3 separate regions of the Homo sapiens genome follow, and all the other regions are reported to be linked to region 3. Evidence: microRNA targets listed by miRTarBase, many of them from high-throughput screens and not tested one by one. Region 3 holds a microRNA gene; each other region holds the end of a gene's coding sequence.
The links. Region 3 holds the annotated microRNA hsa-miR-365a-3p (UAAUGCCCCUAAAAAUCCUUAU, at 2,568-2,589, shown strand). A microRNA usually pairs through its seed, bases 2 to 8, with sites in the 3' UTR of a target mRNA and lowers its output. Matches are read on the target gene's strand: a 7mer-m8 pairs with bases 2 to 8, a 7mer-A1 pairs with bases 2 to 7 and ends in A, and an 8mer does both.

Region 1 (4,000 bases), not on the chromosome of region 3:
CCATGGTTTTTGAGGAATACGAAGCAGGATTAGTAACAAACTAGGAATGCATGCTCATTATAGAGCAGTGGACCCTAAATTTCTAAGGAAACCCCCCACCTCCCTCCCTTCTCTTACCCAACCTCAAAGCTTCTTGCATAAAGCTTCCTAGATGTCAGATCATCCCTGGGAAGAGGGTTGAGGAACCTGTTGCTGTAAAGAGTAGCACCCGTGGGTAAGAGCTCTAACTCGTAACATGGCCAACAGGCCTGCACCCCAGTCCTAGCCTGCCACTCTCTTAGCCTCTCTGGGTTTCAGTGACTTTGACTACAAGGCAGGGATGTGGTAGCCCCTCCTCGTAGGAGGCTGTCGGGATTGAGTGATTGAGTGAGATGGCCCCTGTAAAGCTCTGAACCAGGCAGTCGGCACTCAGGAATGTTCACCAAGGGTGTTCTGTGACCGATGCTACATACGTCTCTTTGATTTGACTTCCAGCCTCTGGTTGAACGGTTTGAGACATTCTGCCTGGACCCTTCCCTTGTCACCAAGCAAGCCAACCTTGTGCACTTCCCACCAGGCTTCCAGCCCATTCCCTGCAAGCCTTTGTTCTTTGACCTGGCCCTCAACCATGTGGCTTTCCCACCCCTTGAGGACAAGTTGGAACAGAAGACCAAGAGTGGCCTCACTGGATACATCAAGGGCATCTTTGGATTCAGGAGCTAACCAGGCTCTTCCTCGGGGGCGGGGGAGATTCTGACTCTTAATCTGTATTGTGAGAAAATCCCAGCAAGTTCCATGATATTAAATCCAGGTCTGCATTGGCCCGGGGCAAGAGTTTAACATCTTCGGCCCTGCATTCCTACATCTTGTGTCTGTACACGTTCTTAAGCAGCGTGTCAGGAGAGCACCCTGTTGTCTTCTGGTAAATGTGTGCAGGGTCATCCTGTCTCCTGTACCTCCTGGGAAAGGGGCCGCTGCTGTCTGGTGCCCTGTGAGCTGTGATTGATTGCCTTTGGTCAGTAATGCGTTCAGGAGTCCACACCAGGCACAGATGGGGCCTTGAAACGCTTTGTCATGCTTCTTCAGTACCATGGATTTGAAATGAACTCATCCTTGCTGTGAGCATCCAGGAGCCCTTGAGAAGTTTATCTATGACTATGAAACTGGCAACGTCACCCCAGAATTACGGTCAGCCTTATTCCCCTTCACCTCCCAGTGAACGCTAAGAAGTTTCAGACAAGCAGAGAGCTCTATTTTTAGAAGAAATATGTTACACTCAGAAATGATGAAACCAAATCTTATATTAAAAGGCAAAGATGACGGAGACTGTGCCCATTTCTTATATGCCCTCCCTCATGTCCAGTCCCCGTTCTCTCCTCGGGAGCCTAGTTGCGTGAAGCCGGTGAGGTCAAGTGTAACCTGACTTACCGGCAACTAGGTGAGGCTGATGCCAGATACACATGTTAGAGGCACTATTTTTCAGGACTTCCCAATGTGTAATTTTTAGATGCCATTATATTTTAATCCCCTTCGTTACCCCCCGTTTTTCCTTAGTCATCCCTTTTCACTTCTATTATAACATCAATAATAGAAGTCACAAAAACAATGTAAGAAAGCAAGGAATAAAAGTGATTTAAACATGTACCTGACACTTAACGATTCCCTTTGGAAATCAAAACTCATCTGTCACATAGGAAAGAAAATTCGTCACAAGAAATGTTGGCTTAGATGTTTTCCGTTTTTGAGCAAACCCAGTGGCTTGAAGAAAAGGCTGACTGGTTAAAAATCCAAGAGCATTGTTTCAGGATGGCATTGTAACCCCCCGAGGGTTCTTGCCCGCTGCCCAGATGGAGTTGATTCATGGAAACAGGAATTGCAATAGAGAGTTTAGTTCACACACAGCCGTCTAAACAGGAGACTGGAGTTTATTACTCACATTGGTCTCCCTGAAAATTCAGAGACTGGGAATTTTAAGGATAATTTGGTGGGTAGGGGGTCAGGAAATGGGGAGTGCTGATTGGTCAGGTTGGAGATGAAGTCATAGGGAGTTGGAGATGAAGTCAGGGAGTTGGAGATGAAGTCATAGGGAGTTGAAGCTGGCCTCTTGTGCTGAGTCGGTTTCCTGGGTGGGGGCTACAAGACCAGATGAGCCAGTTTGGATGGATGGTGCCAGCTGATCCATAAAGTGCAGGGTCTGAAAAATATCTCGAGCACCATTCTTAGGTTTTACAACAGTGATGTCATCCCTAGGAGCAACTGGGAAGGTTCAGAATCTTGGGCCTCTGGCTGCATGACTCCTAAACCATAATTTCAATTTTTGTGGCTAATTCGTTAGTCCTACAAAGGCAGTCTGGGCCCCAGGCAAGAAGGGGGTTTATTTCCGGAAAGTGCTGTTACCATCTTTGTTTCAAAGTTAAACAGTAAACTGTAAGCTTCTCCCAAAGTGAGTTCGGCTTATTCCCAGGAATGAACAAGGACAGCTTGGAGGTTAGAAGCAAGATGGAGTGGGTTAGGCTAGACCTTTTTCACTCTAATAATCTCACCGTTAGAATTTTTGTAAAGGTGGTTTTAGAATGCCACTGTGGGCTTGGCTGTGCCTTTTGTTTTCCCAGTAAGTTGCAGGGAGGGAAGGCTATAAGAGCTAGAAAGGATGGTGAGACACAAATCAGGCTTCTTGTTAGAATTGTGTTGTGGCTTAGAACCTTGAGATGCTCGCAGAGAGGCCCTGATCCCCCGGGGTTTGTTTTGGGTTGGAGAGCCTCAGGAAGCTGGGGTTTTTTTTTTTAATTGAAAGTTTCATCATCTATGCCATATAAATTTAGGACTATCCTCACCCCTTCTGAAAATATAGCACAGATAGGCTGGACACAGTGGCTTACGCCTGTAATCCCAGCACTTTGAGAGGCCAAGGCAGGCAGATCACTTGAGGCCAGAAGTTCGAGACCAGCCTGGGCAACATGGTGAGACCTTGTCTCTACCAAAAAAACTTTTTTAAAAGAAAAATATATATAGCACAGATGACTGGTCTCAGGTTGAGGTCCTGGGTTTTGATCAGGTCAGCGTCCCTGCGGGCTGAGGAACCACGATTTGGGGGTTAGGGGGTCTTCATCCATGTCCTCATCCTCCTCCCAGGGCCATGGGCCAAGATTCTGCACCTCCCTTGTCTCGTCTCTGTGCTGACAGCCACGCTGTCCTCCAGCTCCAAGAACCCAATTGCAGGCCCTGCTGTGCTGCAGTCTCAGGCCGTTGCCTGCAGCATCGTGAGGGGGACGGGCATGGGGAACCGCTCATCCTCCTGGAAGATGTCCCTTTGTCCTTCCCACAGCCCTCCCAGCCCCTCCCACTCTAGAGTGCTGGCCTCAGTGGGGACCCAGGACCTATAAACTAGAGATGGAGGCGAATCCCAACTGCACCTTTTCCTTCTCAGGTTGCCTAATGCTTTGTCTCGCGGCCACACTACAAATTCCATTCCTCCCGGTGCTCCTGCCAGGCGCTCTGAGCAGCATTGGCTGTTAACGGCCAGTGATGCTGTTTAGTATTAAAAGCAGGTGTTTACATAAGAAGACAGATCTGGCAGGGCCAAGGTCTCCGGCGAGCTTGCACATCCCTTCACATGGGATTCCTGGACATTAAGCAGGCTGTGTCGTGGGGGACAGAGCGCCAGATGCAGGACCCCCTCCTGTCCTCAGGCCCTGGGAAGTGGCTCTGCCTCTGATGGGAGCAGGTTTCAAGTCAGGCCCTCACTGCCCCTGGGCCCTGCAGGCTGTTCGCTGGGGGTTTTCACAAAAAGACACTTCGGAGGCCACACAGTCCTGCCTTCCCACGGGGCAGGACATGCAGATGAGGCCCCGGGGGCCGCGAATGGGTCTGTTCCAAGTGGGTGTTCCCGTGTTGTGCTGGCTCCAGTCCCTCCTCCAGGATGGACTCTGGTGCTGTCAGCAAGCTCTGACCCTGGAGGAGGCTTCTGTCTCCAACATCAAGAGAGGACGAAGAGAGCTCCATTCAGTCCCCTTATACTTTT
Region 2 (4,000 bases), not on the chromosome of region 3:
CTCTTATCCCCTGCCAGTCACTTTAGCCTGAATTAGCTGTGAGGCAAACTATTTTGCCATTTCTATGTGTGGATCTTCCAGTGTGACTTTATGCAGTCATTGAAATTGTCTTAAGCACAAATGAAACCTCATGGAAATGTTAATTACTGCTCCTACAATTAACCTTCCTCATATATTCAACAAGCAAGGAATTATTGAGAACTAATACCTCTGAGACACTACTCCTTAGTAGGTTTCAAACCAGGAAGGAGGCAAGTTGAATAGAGTCTAAGTTTTATAATCCAGATCAACACAGAGAAGGGTACTGCTCTGGTATTGAGGGTGGGAGTGGTCAGAGAAGGCCTCCTGGAAAGGTTAGGCCTGCTGAATCTTCAAGAACAAGCAGCAGCCCAAGAGGGGAGGTGAGTGAGATGAGCCACCTTCCTATAGGTCTCTCCTCCTTCCATGCCCCCACTCCCCACCCAAACTTTTCACACTGGGGAGAAGTTTCTGACATGAACATCTAACTTGTTTTCTCTCTTCTGTGTTTCAGGGAACAGCGGATGAAAGAGCACCCCTCATTCGAACCTAAACATTGCCTTTGCTTGGTGAAGAAACTGTGTGAGCTGTCCTGACCTGGACGATGACGTGGGGAAACCCTCCACCTCCTTGCAGGCTTGTTGCCTGTTGAAAGAAGGAAAAAGACACGGCGCTGGCAAGTGATAGGAACATTCTGGCCAGAGGTTAAAGAGCAGGCTGACATGGCTGGCCATTAAGCTTTATAAAATCATGTGGGCTCTGAAATTGTTCTTTTATGTGTCTAGCAAGTATTTAATAAACCCTTGTATAGTAATTTTGTTGTTGTTGGGTGCTGGTAGCTCCAGAATTTTGTGACCACTATTGTGGGTAAAATGTCTCTGCATCACTTGTTAATGCTACTGGTCTAACTTCATTCAGTATGCTTCATTCACCGAACTTTGTGCTCAAAATGCGTATATACCATTTTATGTTGTATTCCTCCATTTCACTTGCAAAACAGAAGTAAATAAGAGTTCGGGACCCAGGGTAAAATGGTAGCTTCATCCAATATATCATTCAAATGCATCTGATTTCTAAAACATATTACATTTTATGCTGATCTTCAGTTCATAATTCTTCCAGGAAAACTCAGTCTTCCAACTGCAATAAAATACTGGGTAGAATCAAATGGGAAAGGGGTTGGGTGGGGCAATACCCATGAGTTGATAGTGATAAGCTCCTAAGGATTTTTAACTTGTACTTTTGTGAACGAAGAGAATGCATAAATAATGTTGGTGAGGATAAAGTACAGATATTTCATGTAGAATTAATTGCTAGTTATGATGCTTGTGGATAGTTAACTGTTTTTTTTTTAGTCAAAATGATCATGCTACGAAAAGATGCTTCTGAGAGAATGTAATGAGTAACTGATTTTTCTTCCTGAGTCGCCCTTGCCAAATATGTTACTGTATTAATTAATCTAATATTGAGTGATTATTTGTAAAATTATGAATATGGGAAATCCATCTATCTACAGCCTAAGTTACACATAAGTTTCAGAAAGTCTGATTAGACTAAAGAGATATTTCTTCTGGGACAGCCGCCTTCTTGGTAATTTTGAAGTTCTTTTTACAAGTTCCTTCCTCAGTTTCAGTTCTTTCCAGTGTTTTGTAGCTCACTGTCACTCACTGAATAGAGAAACGTGTGCCCTATACTTCCTGTGACAATCATTTTGCTGACAGAATGATGGATGTTTAAAATATTGCACAAAGTACTTTAAAGAAAGGTCTGTTAGGACCAGAAGCAGAGACACCACTTTTCAAAGGACTTCTTGGTTTCAGCATAACCTAAGACAGGGAATTGGGAGCCATCATATGTCACAGTGTTCAGAATTCAAGCATATTTAAGGGCATTTTCTTTGATTCTCAAAGTTCAGCATTCATTTTGAATTGAGAAGCCTATACATTTAGCTGACAAAGTGCTTATAGAATTTCTTAACAACTGAACCATTCAAAAGGATTTTTTTTGTTTAAAACTGGATTTCAATGTAAGCAAATGAAGAAAAAAATATAGATTTCATTTCCATAGCTTCTTATCCCTGTATTGAGGTAATAAATTGTTTTACTGACAATTTTTCCTTTTTCTACACTAAAACAATATGTGATATATTTCCCCTCTTGAAGAGGCAATTCATTAAACTCTCAAATTTTCTATAGAATCAAGATAGAACCTTTAGATACTCCAACTCACCAAAATGTAAAAAAACTAACAAAAATATTTGGTCTTCAATAATGCTAAATATCTACATTTTTAGAATTTATCAACATTTAACTAGATAATTGGGCATGTCTTAATTATGCATGTACTTATCCATACTAATAAAATTGACAATGCTAGTGCATACTTATTGGTTTAGTCCTATTATCAGGATATAATCATCTGTGAGGAGGATATTTTAAATACTGTAAATGATAACAGTTAATGATATACACATTTAGACTGAGTTGCACACTGGCAGGGAGACCAAAAACATTACTTCCATACTTGTGTCATGATTCTTTTTTTTTTGAGAGAGTCTCACTCTGTCGCCAGGCTGGAGTACAGTGGCATGATCTCGGCTCACTGCAACCTCTGCCTCCCGGGTTCAAGCAATTCTCCTGCCTCAGCCACCCAAGTAGCTGGGACTACAGGTGCGTGCCACCACGCCCAGCTAAATTTTGTATTTTTAGTGGAGACGGGGTTTCACCATGTTGGCCAGGATGGTCTCAATCTCCTGACCCTGCGATCTGCCCACCTCAGCCTCCCAAAGTGCTGGGATTACAGGCGTAAGCCACCGGGCCTGGCCTGTTTTATGATTCTTAATAGTTACTTGGTTTAAATCACATTTGATACTATCCTTCTGAAAAGTCTGAGACAGATCTACAAACTACAGTCAAAATTATAGATTAAGAGGAATGAATGCACCTATTTGGCTTTAAGTTGAAGATGAATTATTTCTCATGCTCATTTTCTTGCGGCAGTTATCTTAGAAAGACCCCCAAAGGCTTTGTGATTGTAAGCACTGTCATGATCACAGAATGCAAGCTTCTGGTACCATGATCCTCAACTTAGAGAGGAAGAAACCAAGACAGAGAGCTTAACTCACTTCTCTCAGGGAAAATTAGGAGTTGAGCACAGGACAGGAAATGGGCTTTGCCACTTTTAGCTCCAGGCTTTTCTAACCAGACTTGATTTCCTCATGTTCTAGAAAGATCACTAATGGTCAAGTGGAACAAGCACTACACGACTAACCCCTATTGGGGTTTTTAACTTAAGGGAGGCTAATTTTTAATTTAAACTGCTCGAGATATGAGTTCTGCAAAAGGTGGTCCGCATCCTTGGCCCTCTGGACATTATCACTAAATTGCTTGTGCCTGTTAACAAGAATACTGACCAGAATGCTCTTCATGTAGCTTATACAGTTGGTTCACTTCATGCGGTTCTTGACATGTTTATTTCTACCCTTAATGCAATGAAATGTTTCATTAATAAAAAACCACTTTATATAAAATTGCTCTAGAAGTCATATGTCATTGGATGTCCTGTTGTTTATGGAGTTTCCCTGGAAAGATGTTCCTTGACAGATGCAGCCCTGAGTCACACACTTGGGCCATGTCTGATTTCAGCTTCGCTGTAGTGGACAGTTACAATCAGCCTGACAAGTTTCACTCCAAGCAGTCCCACATTCTGCTTTTCTGTCTTAAGTCTTTCTCAAGAGCCCTCAAAGCACCATAGGAGTATCAGGGAGTTAATAACCCAAGGCAACCCTCAACTAAATGGGGCAGGAGTCAGTCAGCTGATAGATGTTTCAATCCTCAGAGGACCAGTTCTCAGGCTTATTCCACATGGGTCCTCAATTAGGGTTGCCCACAGTGGTAACTACTTTCTATCAGTGTTTCTTTATTCCCTGTCTTAATCGCCCAGCCCTTCAATGCTGCTTCCCAAATCATCCACCTGTCCTAAC
Region 3 (4,148 bases):
CATATGCACATATTTACCAAGCTTTAAAATAAGGTTTCTGATTTTATATCATCCGTCTGAGTTTACGGAACCACAAAGCAAACTTCTTTCTCCGTGTCCCTGAAATGCTGCCCCACTGCAGCAAAGGGGACTTCGCCTGGGCAGGGAGAGGAGTTAGTGGCTGGTTGCGCCTAAGGTTAGCTGTGCGGTGTGGTATGACAGTTTTCTCAGAGATGTGCAAAAATCTAGGCTCTCTTGCTGGAATCGTGTGAGATCAGTGCTGGGCCTGTTGGCATTGGCATTTGTGCCCAAGACAGCCCAGACCTCTGCCAGCCGAGGCCCAGATGTGGCCTCAGAGCCACTACTGGTGCCCAGACAAGTCCAGACAGGTGCCTGGGGGTCTTTCCTCCCGAGACGAAGCCTGCAGCAGTTCAGCCAGAAGATGGGGTATTTGGCTCTCAAAGTCAGCCTCCCCAGAGACTCTGCAGGGTTTAATAGCCTGGTGACCCTGTGGGCTCTGGCGAGGGCAGAACCCCACTTTGCTTTCCAAATGCTCAAAGGGGAACAGATGAGGCTATCCCACAGGCTCAGAGCAAATCTGTCCTGTGTGAGTGCAAACGTGGTTCTAGAAGATTCAGAGGCAAAGCTGAGCTTTTGCAGCCCAGCCCCAAGCCCTTGCTCTCGAGCACCAGGGCTGCGATCCTTCGACTTGGGGTGGGCCTAGGAGGCGTAGCTCCCAGCCAGCAAGACAACACATAACACATCTGAGTTACCGTGCATGTGTTTGCTGGTCTCTTCTCCAGCTCCGTGAGGCCTCCCACCTGGGAGCTGAGCCTTTTGCTTTGATCAGGCTGGGAGGAAAACCTAGGCCAGGAAGGGCCGGGCTGCAGGCTGGAAGTGGAAAGAAGTGGGCCAGGTGGACAGAAAAAGGGGCCACCAACTAAGCCACCTTGGGGGTCGGCCCAGAGTGAGAACTGGGCTGGCATTCTGGGTTCAAACACACAAGAAAACTGTCTGCAGCCTCTCTGCCCTGGCACCAACATGTGCCTGCTCCAGGAAGTTGCACCCAGCCCTGAGTCAGCCAAACCCGTGGGACTCCCATTTGGCCCCAGTAACTGGACTCCAGGCTACCAAAGGCCTCGTGGGTTCTCGATCGTATCTTAGAATGGCGTTAAAAGGTCCAGACCCGGCACCTGTAGGCCATGCCGTATTTAGCCCTAGGTTCACCCGGAGAATATTTTAGGTGCTACTTGAAAGAAGAGATCTGGGCCCTAGTTGCCGGCTGTCACATGGCAAGGGTAGAATCGCTCCCTCACAGACCTGGCCGAGATGGCCGGGTGCTCACTGGTACAGGTGCCCAGAGTCCCTGCCAGAGCTTCGGGGCCATGCGACGGGTGCCAAGGAGCCAGCTAGCGACTGGGGCGTCGGTTCTGTGTGGGGATGCCTTTTCACCCCGTTCTCAATCTGAAGGCAGTGAATCCACTTCCATTCACAGAACTCACAGAGGCCTCTCCTCTCTGAGATGGCCCAGTGTGATATCCCAGGCTGCGTAGTAAGCTCCTCCTCTGGTGTCAGCCATGTGGAGGGGTTAACCCTTTCCTGGCTCTGAGGGTGCTGGCTGGCACAGGGGGCACCCACCTGCAGGGCCTCAAAGGTTATATGCCTTGGGGAAGACACCCTGAACTCCTTAGTCCTCAGATCTTAGTGGCTGAACCAAGAGATGGCACCTGGGACCTTAGCAGTAAAACCCGTCCCCTTTTTTTTGAGACAGTGTCTTACTCTGTTGCCCAGGCTGGAGTGCAGTGGTGAGCACAGCTCACTGCAGCCTGAACTTCCTAGGCTCAAGCCTCATCCTCCTGAGTAGCTGGGACTACAAGCACACACCACCACACCTGGCTATTTTTTGCAGAGACTTGGGGGGGGTCTCACTGTGTTGCCCAGGCTGTTCTCAAACTCCTGGCCTCAAGCAGTCCTCCCACTTTGGCCTCCCAAAGTGCAGGGATTACAGGCGTGAGCCCCCACGCCAGCCGGTTTGCCCCTTTTGCACCACCAGCGATAACCACTCAGCTCCCCTACCCAAGCCTTAGTCCTTCTGTCCGTGTTGTGGAAACCAGGTATTTTCATCAGCATTTCCAAGGGGACTAAGTTTCTCCCATTCCAGAGGAGGAGGTGTTGAAGGATAACTTAGATCATTAATGAGGGTCTGGAACAGTCATCTGAAGTTTGGGGGAAACGTCACGTCTCCTATGATGCGCCTGGCTTTAGGGAATAATCCTTGTATCCATTTTGGGAACCTGCTCTGGGATTCCAGATCTGTGGTTTTCTGAGCACGTCTGTGTGGAAGCTGCTGCACTGAGACCTATTTAGCCAATTATTGAGAAGATGAGGTCCCTTTCGTGAGTCTGCACGGAGCCGCCGTACACCATGAAAGCGCTCACTTGTTTAAAGTTTGCTCTAACTTTGTACATTTTTTCCTTTTTAGTTTTGGCTCTTGGTGCTCTGAGAGCTACCACTTCCTGCCAGCTGGTTCGTTACCGCAGGGAAAATGAGGGACTTTTGGGGGCAGATGTGTTTCCATTCCACTATCATAATGCCCCTAAAAATCCTTATTGCTCTTGCAGTATTCCTCGGGGGTCCCTGGGCCAGAAAGACATCAGCTCGGAGTTCCTCCAGCAACTCAAAGAAGAGAGAAAGCTGTTCCCCAAACTCTTCCGCTGTAGCGCCTTCTGGGTCCCTGGTAGATGCCTTCTTGTGCTCAAAACCGGTTATCACTGTGAAAAATTGAAAGACGCCATGCGCAGACACTGGTTGCTAAACGTGCTTTTGCCCTCCAGGGGCAGACGCTGAGATCCGGCCTGGGAAGGAGTACAGCTGTGGCTCCCCATCAGCGTCAGCATTTGCTCTGGGGGGTTGTAGGGGGAGGTAGGGAAAGCGGAAAGAAACAAGTGTTACCTGTTTGACGAGGCCTGGTCCTTGCAGCCAGGGCCTCCGGGATCATCGCCTTGGCAGGGGGCCCTGGGGCAGTCCTGGCTTTCCTGCTAGCTCCCTGAGACAGAACACTTTCCCCGCTCGCTGCCTCAGTTTCCCCATACACCAAGGGAGGGGCAGCACCCCCTGCTCTGGCTTCAAAGGGTTCTTGGATGTAGCCAATGTTATATATAAAAAGCTCTAACGTTGTATAAGCTCTGAAGGTGCTTTGAAAATTGGAGAGTCCATGCATTAAACATGGAAGGTAATAATATGAATACACACAGAGGAATTCATGGGTGGGGAGACGGCAGCCCAGCACTGAGCCTGGGTTTCTGGGATCAGCCAGGCCTGCATTCCAGCCCGAGCTCTGCGCCTCTCTTGCTGTGTCACCCGGGACAAGTGAGTCAGTCTCTCTGAGCCACCAGCTCCTCAGGCATGAAACCTGTAACTCAGACTCCCAAGTCTGATTTGCACATCTCTGATTTTAAGCGGCGCCGGCTAAAGGTGAAAATTATTCTAGTAGGTATTCTTTGCACCGCTGATTTGTACTTCAGGCAATTGGTTGGTTTTCCATTTAGGGTCGGGAGACAGGGGCCCTTTTTTTGTCCATCAATTGATGTCAGTTAAACAAAAAAGAGTGGGTGTTTTGGAAGAAAAATATTAAGCAACTACAGCTGCCCTGAGGATGGGACAGAAATCAGAAAGTCGTGTGTAAAGTTTCAGAGGTCCACTTTTAGAGAATTCTTGTTTATCTCAGGGATTTTCCGCACTCCTGTAGTCGGTGTGGGGAGGGGTGGGGGGAGATGGGGGAGTTGCCAGTTCAGATCTGTAGAGGGCTCCAGCATGACAAAACTGGGTGTCACACATCTTCCTTTTGGGGGTCGGGAAACCACCCTTCCCTGCTCACCGACACCACTGGGACCCCTCACCCCCCCACTCCTGCATTGATCCATAGCTCAGATTTCTCTCTCATTTTAGGGTCACGATGACTCAGCACCCTCCTTTCTGGCCAGGGCACCTCCCTTGGCCTCTAGGGGCACTTGCCTGACAGGCCTCACTGTGCCGGACCTGGGAGCCAGCTGCCCACCAGCCCCCTGGGACTCTGGTTTTGCAGGGAAACCATGGGTGATCAGTCCCAGCCGGCAGGGGCCAACTGCGGTTTCACTTTCTGCTGCATCATGGGGTGGGGGGTGGCAGCG

Region 1: miRTarBase lists SRP68 as a target of hsa-miR-365a-3p. The part of its 3' UTR that is shown has no 7-base or 8-base seed match.
Region 2: miRTarBase lists SCARB2 as a target of hsa-miR-365a-3p. Seed matches in the 3' UTR shown: 7mer-m8 at 1,905-1,911.

The regions. Positions count from the first base shown.
Region 1 is chr17:76,036,408-76,040,407 of GRCh38, reverse strand. SRP68 (signal recognition particle 68) reads left to right here. Exons shown (of 16, transcript NM_014230.4): 16 at 475-1,623. The coding sequence ends at 702. Among named protein-coding and RNA genes, the nearest start is that of EVPL, 11 kb to the right of the region's middle. RefSeq lists an enhancer at 1-250 and a silencer at 3,406-3,700.
Region 2 is chr4:76,158,284-76,162,283 of GRCh38, reverse strand. It overlaps SCARB2 (scavenger receptor class B member 2), which reads left to right. Exons shown (of 12, transcript NM_005506.4): 12 at 533-3,547. The coding sequence ends at 571. LOC124900718 (a long non-coding RNA gene) reads right to left here. Exons shown (of 2, transcript XR_007058144.1): 2 at 3,517-4,000. Among named protein-coding and RNA genes, the nearest start is that of NUP54, 12 kb to the right of the region's middle.
Region 3 is chr16:14,306,773-14,310,920 of GRCh38, forward strand. MIR365A (microRNA 365a) reads left to right here and starts at 2,513; the gene lies at 2,513-2,599. The region is part of intron 1 of MIR193BHG (MIR193b-365a host gene); the gene reads left to right. RefSeq lists enhancers at 1-383, 384-1,068, 1,864-1,913, 3,800-4,094, 3,886-4,005 and 1 more and a silencer at 3,680-3,974.